Homo sapiens: one gene and its partners. The protein of the gene in region 1 binds, or shares a complex with, the protein of each later gene. Each region holds a gene or a part of one and is shown in the gene's direction. Other genes may lie near its edges. The genes, in order: MED13L, MED20 and MED25.

The links.
Region 2: MED13L (region 1) and MED20 share a complex: the UniProt entries of both Homo sapiens proteins name them as parts of the mediator complex.
Region 3: MED13L (region 1) and MED25 share a complex: the UniProt entries of both Homo sapiens proteins name them as parts of the mediator complex.

Annotation. Positions count from the first base shown.
Region 1 is NC_000012.12:115,959,569-115,963,215, reverse strand, and holds part of MED13L (mediator of RNA polymerase II transcription subunit 13-like), read left to right. Parts: intron 1-1,817; coding exon 1,818-1,950; 3' UTR 1,951-3,647. UniProt on the Homo sapiens protein: Component of the Mediator complex, a coactivator involved in the regulated transcription of nearly all RNA polymerase II-dependent genes.
Region 2 is NC_000006.12:41,918,211-41,922,524, reverse strand, and holds the start of MED20 (mediator of RNA polymerase II transcription subunit 20), read left to right. Parts: upstream 1-1,385; 5' UTR 1,386-1,506; coding exon 1,507-1,520; intron 1,521-1,581; exon of another isoform or gene 1,582-1,725; intron 1,726-4,314. Other genes in the region: BYSL (bystin), read right to left, coding at 695-962. UniProt on the Homo sapiens protein: Component of the Mediator complex, a coactivator involved in the regulated transcription of nearly all RNA polymerase II-dependent genes.
Region 3 is NC_000019.10:49,821,244-49,824,890, forward strand, and holds part of MED25 (mediator of RNA polymerase II transcription subunit 25), read left to right. Parts: intron 1-3,647. UniProt on the Homo sapiens protein: Component of the Mediator complex, a coactivator involved in the regulated transcription of nearly all RNA polymerase II-dependent genes.

The DNA of each region.
Region 1 (3,647 bases):
ATTCAGTTAGGCAGTGATAGGCATTTATAGTTGCCTTTGCTTCCTGTTCAGAGCAGGCACTTCATGGTGATGAAGAGAGGTCAGATCTTGGGGGTGGATAGTTAGAAGACAGTGTCTGGAACTCTTAAAGCACCTCACATTGAAAACACTTTTTATGCTTCCTGAGATAGATTATGTATTTTTGTTTGTTTATTCGAGATGGAGTCTCGCTCTGTCACCCAGGCTGGAGTGCAGAGGCGTGATCTCAGCTCACTGCAAACTCCGCCTCCTGGGTTCATGCCATTCTCCTGCCTCAGCCTCCCAAGTAGCTGGGACTACAGGCACCCGCCAGAATGCCCGGCTAATTTTTTGTATTTTTAGTAGAGACGGGATTTCACCGTGTTAGCCAGGATGATCTCGATCTGACCTCATGATCTGCCTGCCTCAGCCTCCCAGAGTGCTGAGATTACAGGCATGAGCCACCGATTATGTGTTTTTTTAAAAATGGACTAGAACATAAATGACATAGTTGAGAAGTGCATTCCAGAAGTGTGTATTAATCAAGCCACAGGCATTCTTCATCTACCTTGAGAAAATATACAGGCCTTTTCTAATGTTTTCTAACTCTTAAATGGTTAGGAAATGATAGGAAACTATATATTATAGATTAATGTATAATTATAGTTATGGATAAAAATAAAGAACCTGATCAACATAAATTTGGCTTCCAGGCCCCCTAGAGCAGGGGTCCCCAACCCCCGTCCATGCCTTGTTAGGAACCAGGCCCCACAGCATGCGGTAAGTAGCAAGTGAGCGAGCATTACAGCCTGTGCTCCGCCTCCTGTCAGGCAATGACATTAGATTCTCATAGGGGCACAAACCCTATTGTGAACCGCACATGCAAGGGATCTAGGTTGTGTACTCTTTATGAGACTCCTAATGATTTAAGGTGGAACAGTTTCATCCTGAAACCATCCCCCACCACGTGGAAAAATTGTCTTCCACGAAACTGGTCCCTGGTGCCAAAAAAGGTTGGAGACTGCTGCCCTAGAGGAACACTGTCCAATAGAAATACAATGTGAACCTCAAATCTAATTAAAATTTTTCTGTTAGCCACATTAAAATAGTAAAAAGAAACTGGTTAATTTTAGTAATATATTTTATTTAACTCAATATACTCAAAATGTTATTTCAACATGTAACAATATAAAAATATTCATGAAATATTTTACATACTTTTCTTTTTTTCGTTTTCTTTTTCTTTTTTTTTTGGAGACGGAGTCCTGCTCTGTCACCCAGGCTGGAGTGCAGTGGCATGATCTCACTGCAACCTCCGCCCACAGGTTCAAGCAATTCTCCTGCCTCAGCCTCCCAAGTAGCTGGGATTACAGGCATGCACCACCACGCCTGACTAATTTTTGTATTTTTAATAGAGATGGGGTTTCACCATGTTGGCCACCTGGTCTTGAACTCCTGACCTCAGGTGATCCACCCCCACCTCGGCCTCCCAAAGTTGCTGGGATTCCAGGCGTGAGCCACTGCACCTGGCCCCTAAGTGTTTGGGCTCCAGTGCCTACTTTACCTGCAGTCCACGCAAGTTCCTACTGGCCTCACTGGCGGAGCTCAATGGCCATGTGTGGCTGCTGGCTACTGTACTGGATAGTCCATATCTAGAAGGAAGGAGGAACATGAGACAAAGGATGAGGGAAAGAGCCTGGGGCAAGTTAAGGAATGCCTTTGAGACCTCCTTCCTGCTAAGATCTGGAATGTATTAGAATCTGAGAACCAGCCTTCCCTCTTGAGGCTCACGCCCCTGCTCTGTGTGTTCTCTTTGGCAGGTTTGTTTTGGAGCAGTACAACGCTCTGTCCTGGCTCACGTGCAATCCGGCCACCCAGGACCGTACTTCCTGCCTTCCCGTCCACTTTGTGGTGCTCACTCAGTTGTACAATGCCATCATGAATATACTTTAATTGGAAAAGCACTTGTTCTCTCTGGCTCAGTTCCTTCTCCCTGCAACCTCAGTCCAAGGAACCTGCTACACTCTGCAAATAACCCACATCCTTTTCTTCAGACCACTCTCCACAGTCCTGCACTGTGATTCCTTCTCAGCAGGCACATGTCAATTCTGCAGTGTTCATTACCAGAGTGACTCCTTGACACTTCTCTCATGGACCTGGAAACTTCCATAAGTGGTGACTTTCAGCCAGTGCGGTGGTGTGTGTAGCCCCAACCACTGGTCCCCAGGAAGTGGTGGTGGTTGATGGCTTTTCAGCGGGAAACAGAAGAGACAGTGTCCTTTTGCACAAGAGTCTGTGTTTTCAGCCTCTGTATACAATTGAGGGCAGTCTAGCCCTTTGGATGAAATCCTCTTAGTTACTGGTGTATGGCCTGTGGGTTACCTGAACTCCATAATCTGGGACTTTTTAAAAATAAGAACCAGCTCAAGTACATGGTTTCATACTGGGGTTTCTGTCTCCCTAGTGTTCCCATCCAGATTAGCATGAGTGCTTTGGTTGACTTCAAACCTGTGTGTCAATGCAGAAGGTCTGGAGACAGCTTCATTTTGTTTATTTATTTTAATTTGTTTTGTCATATGGTTTTTGTGACTTTATTTTTTTAATTCACAAGGACCAGGTACAGTAGCTGAAACCCAATTCAGATCCACCATAGGATTCTTTGACTACATACCTCTGTCCTAGAAGCCGGAAAAGGAGTAAAAACACATTGGGGAGATCATGCCTAAAAGTAATATATTCAAAACCACCCAGCAGTAGGTTTTGTTAACAACAAACTGGATTTTAAAAGTTCTGCCATGTTAAGTGGCCAGCATTTCATGAAGGATAACATTTTTATACAGAAGGCAGTCAAGCTCAACTCAGAGCCATGGAGGCAAGTACCTTAATTAGTTTTATATAGTCACAACGGAAATATATTTTCTAGTGAATTCTTATTGGAAGCCAGGTCTCTCCTCTCATTAGATCAAAAGGGACTTATGTACATACAACAATTGAAAGTGTTTGCTCATGAAATCAGTTATAAATATGGTGAATTTTTTCTGGACCATAGGAATATTATTTCAAAGAAATATTACAACTTAACCATTAAATTAGTACTTGAAGTTGAGCCTTTGTGGTGGGACTTTTTAAAAAAATGCCTTTTTAAAGCATTAATGGCTAATTGAAGTATTTTATGACTCCTCATTCCTGGCCCAGAGGGTTGTCTTTGAAACCCTGTTTCTAACCCTTGTGTTGTGTGTTTCTGTCTGAGGACAGTGGGTGTGTACTGGCCTCCCGGGAGCCACTGTGACCAGGCCTTTGAGCTCTTGTCATCTGTGGAGAGAATCATGCAAATTTTAAAAGTTCTTCCAAGAGACTTCCATGTCCTGGTTATTAACAAAAAAGGAAAAATGTAATAATTGATATGATTTTGTAAAAGTATTTTTCTTGAAATAATCTAAAGTTTAAAACATTATATTAAAAAAAAAGTTGTGTGGTGGGAATGTGAAAGCAGAGAAATAACTTGTAAATGGATAATTTTGTTCTCTGTACCACCAGTTGAAGGGGGGGTTGACTTTCGCAATGTATAGGATAAAAAATCTGATATATCAAACCATTTGTATCTAATGTGTACAGTGTAAAATTGACTTTAAAAATATTGCAGTGCTATT
Region 2 (4,314 bases), on another chromosome or scaffold:
GGCCAGAAGGCCACTATTCAATTGTGTCAAATATTGCTTTAGATGAGATCTGAGAAACGGATGAAGCACCTCAGAGGTCAACACTCCCTCCCTAGTGAGAAAACATCAGACGTCTTTCAATTCATCTCTCTCGCTCTTTGGCTGCTAAACAATGTGTTTTCTGCTCATAACACTTCCCATTCGTTTTTCAGTTCTCAGCTTAAAGGTCCTGCTGCAATCGGAGAAGCTTCTCAAGACCAATGCTATTGTTACCAGGGAAACGATACTTTATCATGGAAATATATTATTCTAAGAGTCTACTTAATTGCCTCTCTGCTGGGCTTGACTGTAAGGTCCTTAAGTTAGACGTGCCTGTGTTGTTTACTTCTGTACCCAAACATTCGATAGAATTCCGAGCATAGCGCAAAGCTCGTAGTGGGTATCCCATAAATATTTACAAAACCAATGGATACATGCTAGGAGCACTTAGTGGCGCGATCGATTACTGTTGGCCTAACTTCGGGGGTGTCTAGAAGGGAGTGCCTAAAACTAGGAGTGGACGCGGAGGGCTCTAGACAGGGTTCAGTCTCCTTTGCAAGTGTAATACGGACCCCTTTGTTGACTCGAAGCAATTCCCCTGCCAGACACTTTTTAGCTGCCCACCCCGCCCCACTACTGGCCACTGTCTTCCTCGGACCTCATCCCAGACACTCACCCAGCCGCGTGGTGCGTTCCCGCGGCGCCGCGGGCTTGTCCCCAGTCCCATGCTCGGCCTCGAGTTCCTCCTGTTGCTGCCGTGCTTGCTGCAAAATCCGTCGGCTCAGCCGGGGCCCCACATACTCTTCCTCCGCTTCTCCTGTCCCGCGACCCCGCCGCTTCTCCCGGACCCCCGCCCGCACCGCATTCCCAGCCAGGATCTGATCGGCCAGGGGCGCATGTTTTTCCTGACCCCCCACCCCACGGGCCGCCTTGAATTTGGGCATTTTTCTCGAAAAAGTTGCCGGGAAGGATCGCACGTGGGGACTGAAGAAAGGCCAGGATGCGCTTGCGCGGTGGACTCCCAGCGCCCAAGAGGCCGCCCGGCGATCACAGCGCCCCCTAGCATTCGGAGGCCAGAAGCGCCATCAGCGCCGCCCCTCCCACTAAAAGAGCTCCCGGGTTCCGGAGCTGGACTCCCGAATATATTCACTGCCTTTAACGTTAGCTTCTCTCAATAGTGCAGTCTTTGAGTGTCGCTCTCCTAGCTTCATGGATGTAGGCCTAGAGTGCTCAGCCAAACGGGAATGTCTGGATTTAGAAACCTCGGGGCGGGAATCCGCAGATGATGTCAGTGGAGGCGTCACCGAGGGGTGCCGAGACACGCCCCATTCCTTGGGGAAGGCGTGGACCCGGCGCTCTGTTTTTACGTATTTCCGGAGTCCCTTCTGAGACAGAAGGTTGTGTTGGGGAACTGAAGGAGTTTCTGTGGGCGGACAGGGAACCCTGCGTTTCTACTGTGTGATTCTGCCACCTTCCTGGCCCGACGCCATGGGAGTGACTTGGTAGGACTGCAGGGGGTTTTGTGGGGCGGGGCTTGGAGTTGTGAAAGGCCGGAAAGAGGACCTTGACCATGGTCCGCCGTCCTCTGGGAGCTGAGGGAGATGTCCTCGGGTTGTGTAGATGAGAGGATGCCGTCCGGGCTGCGGGTTCCCCGGGCTTGTTTCCTCAGAGATGCGCCCCTTCCTCTTGGAAGGCGGGAAAGCAAAGGTTTTTTTTTTGTTTTGTTTTGTTTTTTTTAAGACGGGGTCTCGCTCTGTCGCCAGACTGGAGTGCAGTGGAGCGATCTTGGCTCACTGCAACACTCCGCCTCTTGGGTTCAAGCGATTCTCCTGTAGTCCCGAGTAGCTGGGACTACAGGCGCCCGCCACCACGCCCGGTTACTTTTTGTATTTTTAGTAGAAATGGGGTTTCACCATATTGGCCACGCTGGTGTCGACAAAGCAAACTTTTTATCCCAGGAACCTATCAATGGTTGTATACCTCATTCTCTTCTGGATACATCTTCCTTCCCGTGAGGCCATAGTACTGCCTGCAGTGGGACCTCAGGGTTGGAAATAGGGTCTTTGGACTATGACCCACCTGCAGACAGGGTTGGAGGGAGTGGGCCATAAGCAATCAGGAGATAGTATTTTTTAAGATTTTCGCCTGCTCTTCCCTCAGCCATCAAATACAGTTAGACCCGCTTGTGTCTGTTTCTAATTTGCTCATTTTAAGATCTTGGGTCTAGAGGAAAAAAGGGTATTGATAATAAGGAGATCATGGTTCCAGGCACTTTATCTCTTTAGGACCCGTTTCCCACTATGTTTAATTCCATGGTTGGTCTAGTTTCAATGGAGTTTTTATCTTTCATATGTTTTAAGTCTCAGTTGAAAGAAGATGAGGTGGCAGGGAAAGGTATGGGTCCAGTGCTCGTGGAGGCGTTAGTTGTAAGGTGCCAGGTCCCAGAACATTTTTTTCTTATCTCAGTAGATGTGAGCATTTTTCCCGTGGGAGAAATCCGGAGGCCAGGATATTTGAAGCCAGTGGATATAGGCTTCTCATACAAAAGCATGTGTAGGGGAAATACTTTTCCTCCTGGTAGCCCAGGTTCTTGCAGGTTTCTCAGTGATTGCACTCTTGCTTCCTACGATTGACACGATCCTCCTGTGTTCCTTAATGGAAGCAAGATATGTGAGGAATGGAAATGGAAAGGATGCAGCGTAGAACCCTGGAACCCTTGCTCTTTCTTTTTTTTAAAGAAATAGAAATGGGGTCTTGCTGTTTTGTACATGCAGGTCTTGAATTCCTGAACTCAAGCGAGCCTCCTGCTTTGGTCTCCCAAAGTATTGGCATTATAGACATGAGCCACCGTGCCCAGCCACCCCTGCTCTTTAAATGGAGAAGGCAGCTCCAGGGAAAGGGCTCTCTGTTGGCCCCCTTATCAACGTTTTCAGAATCCTAGGACTTCTGTCACTTGTAGCGTCAGTTTAGGGATTCTTTTGTATTTCAAAATAAGGCACATTAGCAACATCGTTTATCAGTGTTTTTTTCTGATAGAGTAGTGACAATTTTTAGCAACAGAAGGACTCTACCTTAATAGATTCATTTAGTTGATCATAAAGCAATGTCATCTATGACTGTTTTCTTGATTTCTATATAGCTAAGTACTGCTTGTACTATTGTTTATTAATTTTTTAATCGATTTTCCTTAATGTTTTAACAGGCACTACATCCTTATACAGGCAGTCTAGTTAGTGGTTAAGAGCATGGACATCAAGCCAGGTTGCTGGGCTTTGAGTCTTGAGTGTACCACCCATTAACTGTGTGACCTAGTGCAAGTTATTTAACCTCTTTGTGCTGTACTTAAGTTTCCTCTTTTTTTTTTTTTTTTTTTTTTTTGAGGCAGAGTCTCACTCTGTTGCCCAGGCTGGAGTGCAGTGGCGTGATCTCGGCTCACTGCAAGCTCCGCCTCCCGGGTTCATGCCATTCTCCTGCCTCAGCCTCCCGAGTAGCTGGGACTACAGGCGCCCACCACCATGCCTGGCTAATTTTTTTGTATTTTTTTTTTTTTTTTGAGACGGAGTCTCGCTCTGTCGCCCAGGCCGGACTGCGGACTGCAGTGGCGCAATCTCGGCTCACTGCAAGCTCCGCTTCCCGGGTTCACGCCATTCTCCTGCCTCAGCCTCCCGAGTAGCTGGGACTACAGGCGCCCGCCACCGCGCCCGGCTAATTTTTTGTATTTTTAGTAGAGACGGGGTTTCACCTTGTTAGCCAGGATGGTCTCGATCTCCTGACCTCATGATCCACCCGCCTCGGCCTCCCAAAGTGCTGGGATTACAGGCGTGAGCCACCGCGCCCGGCCATTTTTTTGTATTTTTGGTAGAGACGGGGTTTCACCGTGTTAGCCAGGATGGTCTTGATCTCCTGACCTCGTGATCTGCCCGCCTTGGCCTCCCAAAGTGCTGGGATTACAGGCGTGAGCCACCGTGCCTGGCCAAGTTTCGTCTTTTTTTTTTTCTTTTTGAGATGGAGTTTCGCTCTTGTTGTCCAGGCTGGAGGGCAGTGGTGCGATCTTGGCTCACTGCAACCTCCGCCTCCTGGTTTCAAGTGATTCTCCTGCCTCAGCCTCCCATGTAGCTGGGATTACAGGCGCACACCACCATGCCTGGCTAAGTTTTGTATTTTTGGTAGAGACAGGGTTTCACCATGTTGGCTAGGCTGGTCTCGAACTCCTGACCTCAAGTGATCCGCCCACCTCGGCCTCCCAAAGTGCTGGGATTACAGGCGTGAGCCACCATGCCCGGCAGTTTCCTCATT
Region 3 (3,647 bases), on another chromosome or scaffold:
GATTGAGGGACCCAATAGAGAGAGCAAAGAGGAAGCCCCAGGCCTCTCTTGTTTTTGAGGAAGGGTCTCACTCTGTCACGCAGGCTGGAGTGCAGTGGCTCAGTCACGGCTCACTGCAGCCTCGACCTCCTGGGCTCAAGCTCAAGCGATCCTCCCATCTCAGCTTCCCGAGTAGCTGGAGTAGCAGGGACGGTAGCCAAATGCCAGCACACCTGGCTGATTTCTTAAAAATATTTTTGTAGGTCGGGCGTGGTGGCTCACGCCTGTAATCCCAGCACTTTGGGAGGCTGGGGCAGGTGGATCACCTGAGGTCAGGAGTTCGAGACCAGCCTGTCCAACATGGTGAAACCCTGCCTCTACTAAAAATACAAGCAATCATCCTGCCTTGACCTCCCTAAGTGCTGGAGTGCTGAAATTACAGGCCTTAGCTGGGCATGGTGGCGCATGCCTGTAATCCCAGCTCTTGGGAGGCTGAGGCAGGAGAATTGCTTGAACCTGGGAGGTGGAGGTTGCAGTGAGCCGAGATCACACCATTGCACTCCAGCCTGGGCAACAAGAGTGAAATTCTGTCTCAAAAAAAAAAAAAAAAAAAAATTTTGTAGTGGCGGGGCACGGTGGCTCATCCCTGTAATCCCAGCACTTTGGGAGGCCAAGGCGGGCGAATCACCTGAGGTCAGGAGTTCGAGACCAGCCTGGCCAACATGGTGAAACCCCGTCTCTACAAAAAATACAAAAATTGGGCAGGCGTGGTGGCTCACGCCTGTAATCCCAGCACTTTGGGAGGCTGAGGCGGGTGGATGATGAGGTCAGGAGATGGAGACCATCCTGGCTAACACGGTGAAACCCCGTCTCTACTAAAAATACAAAAATTTAACCGGGCGCGGTGGCAGGCACCTGCAGTCCCAGCTACTCGGGAGGCTGAGGCAGGAGAATGGCGTGAACCCAGGAGGCGGAGTTTGCAGTGAGCCAAGATTGCACCACTGCACTCCAGCCTGGGCAACAGAGCAAGACTCTGTCTCAAAAAAAAAAAAAAAAAAAAAACCATACAAAAATTAATCAGGTGTGGTGGCATGTGCCTTGTAATCCTAGCTACTCAGGAGGCTGAGGCAGGAGAATCACTTCAAGCCAGGAGGTGGAGAGATCGCACCACTGCGCTCCAGCTTGGGTGACTGACTGACTGAGACCCTGTCTCAAAAAAAAATTGTTTTTTTTGTGGAGACAAGGTCCTGCAATGTTGCCCAGGCTGGTTTTGAACTCCTGGTCTCAAGTGATCCTCCACTTCAGTGTCCCTAAGTGCTGGGATTAGAGGCATGAGATGCTGCACCCAGAGGCCCCACTAGGCTCTTTGTAATCAAGTCTTGGAAGTTACACGTCATGTCATTATTTCTGTTACATTCTTTTTTTTTTTTTTTTTTTTTTTTTGAGACAGAGTCTCGCTCTGTTGTCCAGGCTGAAGTGCAGTGGTGCGATCTCAGCTCACTGCAAGCTCCGCCTCCCGAGTTCACGCCATTCTCCTGCCTCAGCCTCCTGAGTAGCTGGGACTACAGGTGCCCGCCACCACACCCAGCTAATTTTTTGTATTTTTAGTAGAGACAGGGTTTCACTGTGTTAGCCGGGATGGTCTCGGTCTCCTGACCTTGTGATCCACCCGCCTCGGCCTCCCAAAGTGCTGGGATTACAGGCGTGAGCCACCGCGCCTGGCCTACATTCTGTTTTTTAACCTGAGACAGGGTCTTGCTCTGTTGCCCAGATTGGAGTGCAGTGGTGGGATCATAGCTTGCTGCAGCCTCGACCTCTCGGGCTCAAGTGATCCTCCCACCTCAGCCTCCTGAGTACCTAGGACTGCAGGTGGGCACCACCATGCATGGCTGATTTCTTTATTTTAATTCTTGTAGAGATGAGGTCTTGCTGTGTTGCTCAGACTGGTCTTGAACTCCTGGCCTCAAGCGATCCTCCTGCCTTGACCTCCCTAAGTGCTGGAGTGCTGAGATCACAGGCCTGAGCTGCGGTGCCAAGTCCACTTCTGCCATACTGCATTTGGTGTGCAGTATAAGCCTATCCCGTTCAGTGTAGGAGGAGACTACCCAGTGTGTAAATAGCAAGAGGCTGGATTGCTGGGTGCTGTATTGGGGGCTGGGTACCGCAACCTCACAGCGATGTTTGGAGAATTAAGTTAGTTGATGATGTTTAATACAGTGCCTGGCATGTATTAAGTGCCGTGTAAGTGTTTCCTAGGATTTTGTGCCTCACTCTCCTGGTTTGCAAATGGATAATGGTCGCGTGTATCTCCGTGTTGTTAGAAGATCACAGGAGCTAAGTTGCTTGCTGTGTGTCGCTTAGGGCCTGGTCTGCAGTCAAGGTTCATTAAACAACACCTGTTCGTAGCGGCCGTTACCTCTGTATGCTTCTGCAGCAGGTGTTTGTTGAGTATCTGCTTTGTTCCAGTATGTGCGTGCAAGTGCTGGGTGCAGGACATATAGTGAAAAGGTGACACAGAAGCTTCCCCTTCGCGGTAGCTGGAATTCGTAGGTAACACAGAGCAGGGTTTCTCATCCTTGGCCCTAGTGACACTGTGGACACAGTCATTCCTTGTAGTGGGGGCCGTCCTGGGTATTGTAGGATGTTTAACATCATCCTTGGCCTCTACTCACTAGATGCCGGTAGCCCCCTCCCAAAGGTGTGACAACCAAAAATGTCTCCAGGCATTATAAAATATCCTCTGGGAAGGGGGCGCAAAATGTATTCCATTTGAGACCACTGGGAGAGACCGGTAAGACAGTCTTGAGTGATGTTAAATGGAGACTTCTTGAGGCCCAGGTCCAAGTCTGATGCTCCTCAAGTGCCTGGCAGCCAGCACAGGGCCTGGTACACAGGAGGCCTCGGGTAAATTCTGTAGAATGAATGTCCAGAATGCATTTAATACTAACCACCCTGGAAGACACTGCATAGCCTTCCAGACCCAGCTCAGGTGTCTTATACCCTGGGAAACCTTCCCGATTCTTGCAGCCAGATGCTTCCTCCTCTGCCTCCATGACCTGTCACAGCCCCACACCTCTGGACTGTGAATGTCCAGGTCCCTGGGTGCTTCTGCCATTTGCTTCCAGCTGGGGCTTGGCACCCACGGGGCTTCAGGAGACTGGCTGAATAAATGAATTAGTATGTAATACAAAAACAACAAATAAATAGAAAAAATTAACCAGGCATGGTGGTGCACACCTGTAGTCCCAGCTACTCAGGAGGCTGAGGTAGGAGGATCAACTGAGACTGGGAGGCAGAGGTTGCAGTGAGCCGAGATTGTGCCACCGCACTCCAGCCTGGGTGAAAGAGCGAGACCCTGTCTCGGGAAAAAAAAAAAAAAAAAAGAGGTGGAAGGAAAATAGACCCAGTGTGTTTCCCATAACATTATGACAACTCAGTTGTTCATTCATATGTTCACTCATTAATTCAACAAATGTTTGTGGAACAAATCGTCCTGGGCACCAAGGAGTTAGTGGGCATGAGATAGGCAAGGTCCTGGCCCTCATGGAACTAGTTTGCCTGGGTGACAGGCCGTGTGTAGGGAGCCCTTGGTCATGGCCGGATGCTGTTAACATTCACTCATTTTGACCTCCTGGGGCTCCAGGCACCTGTTAGCCGATGAAAGCGGG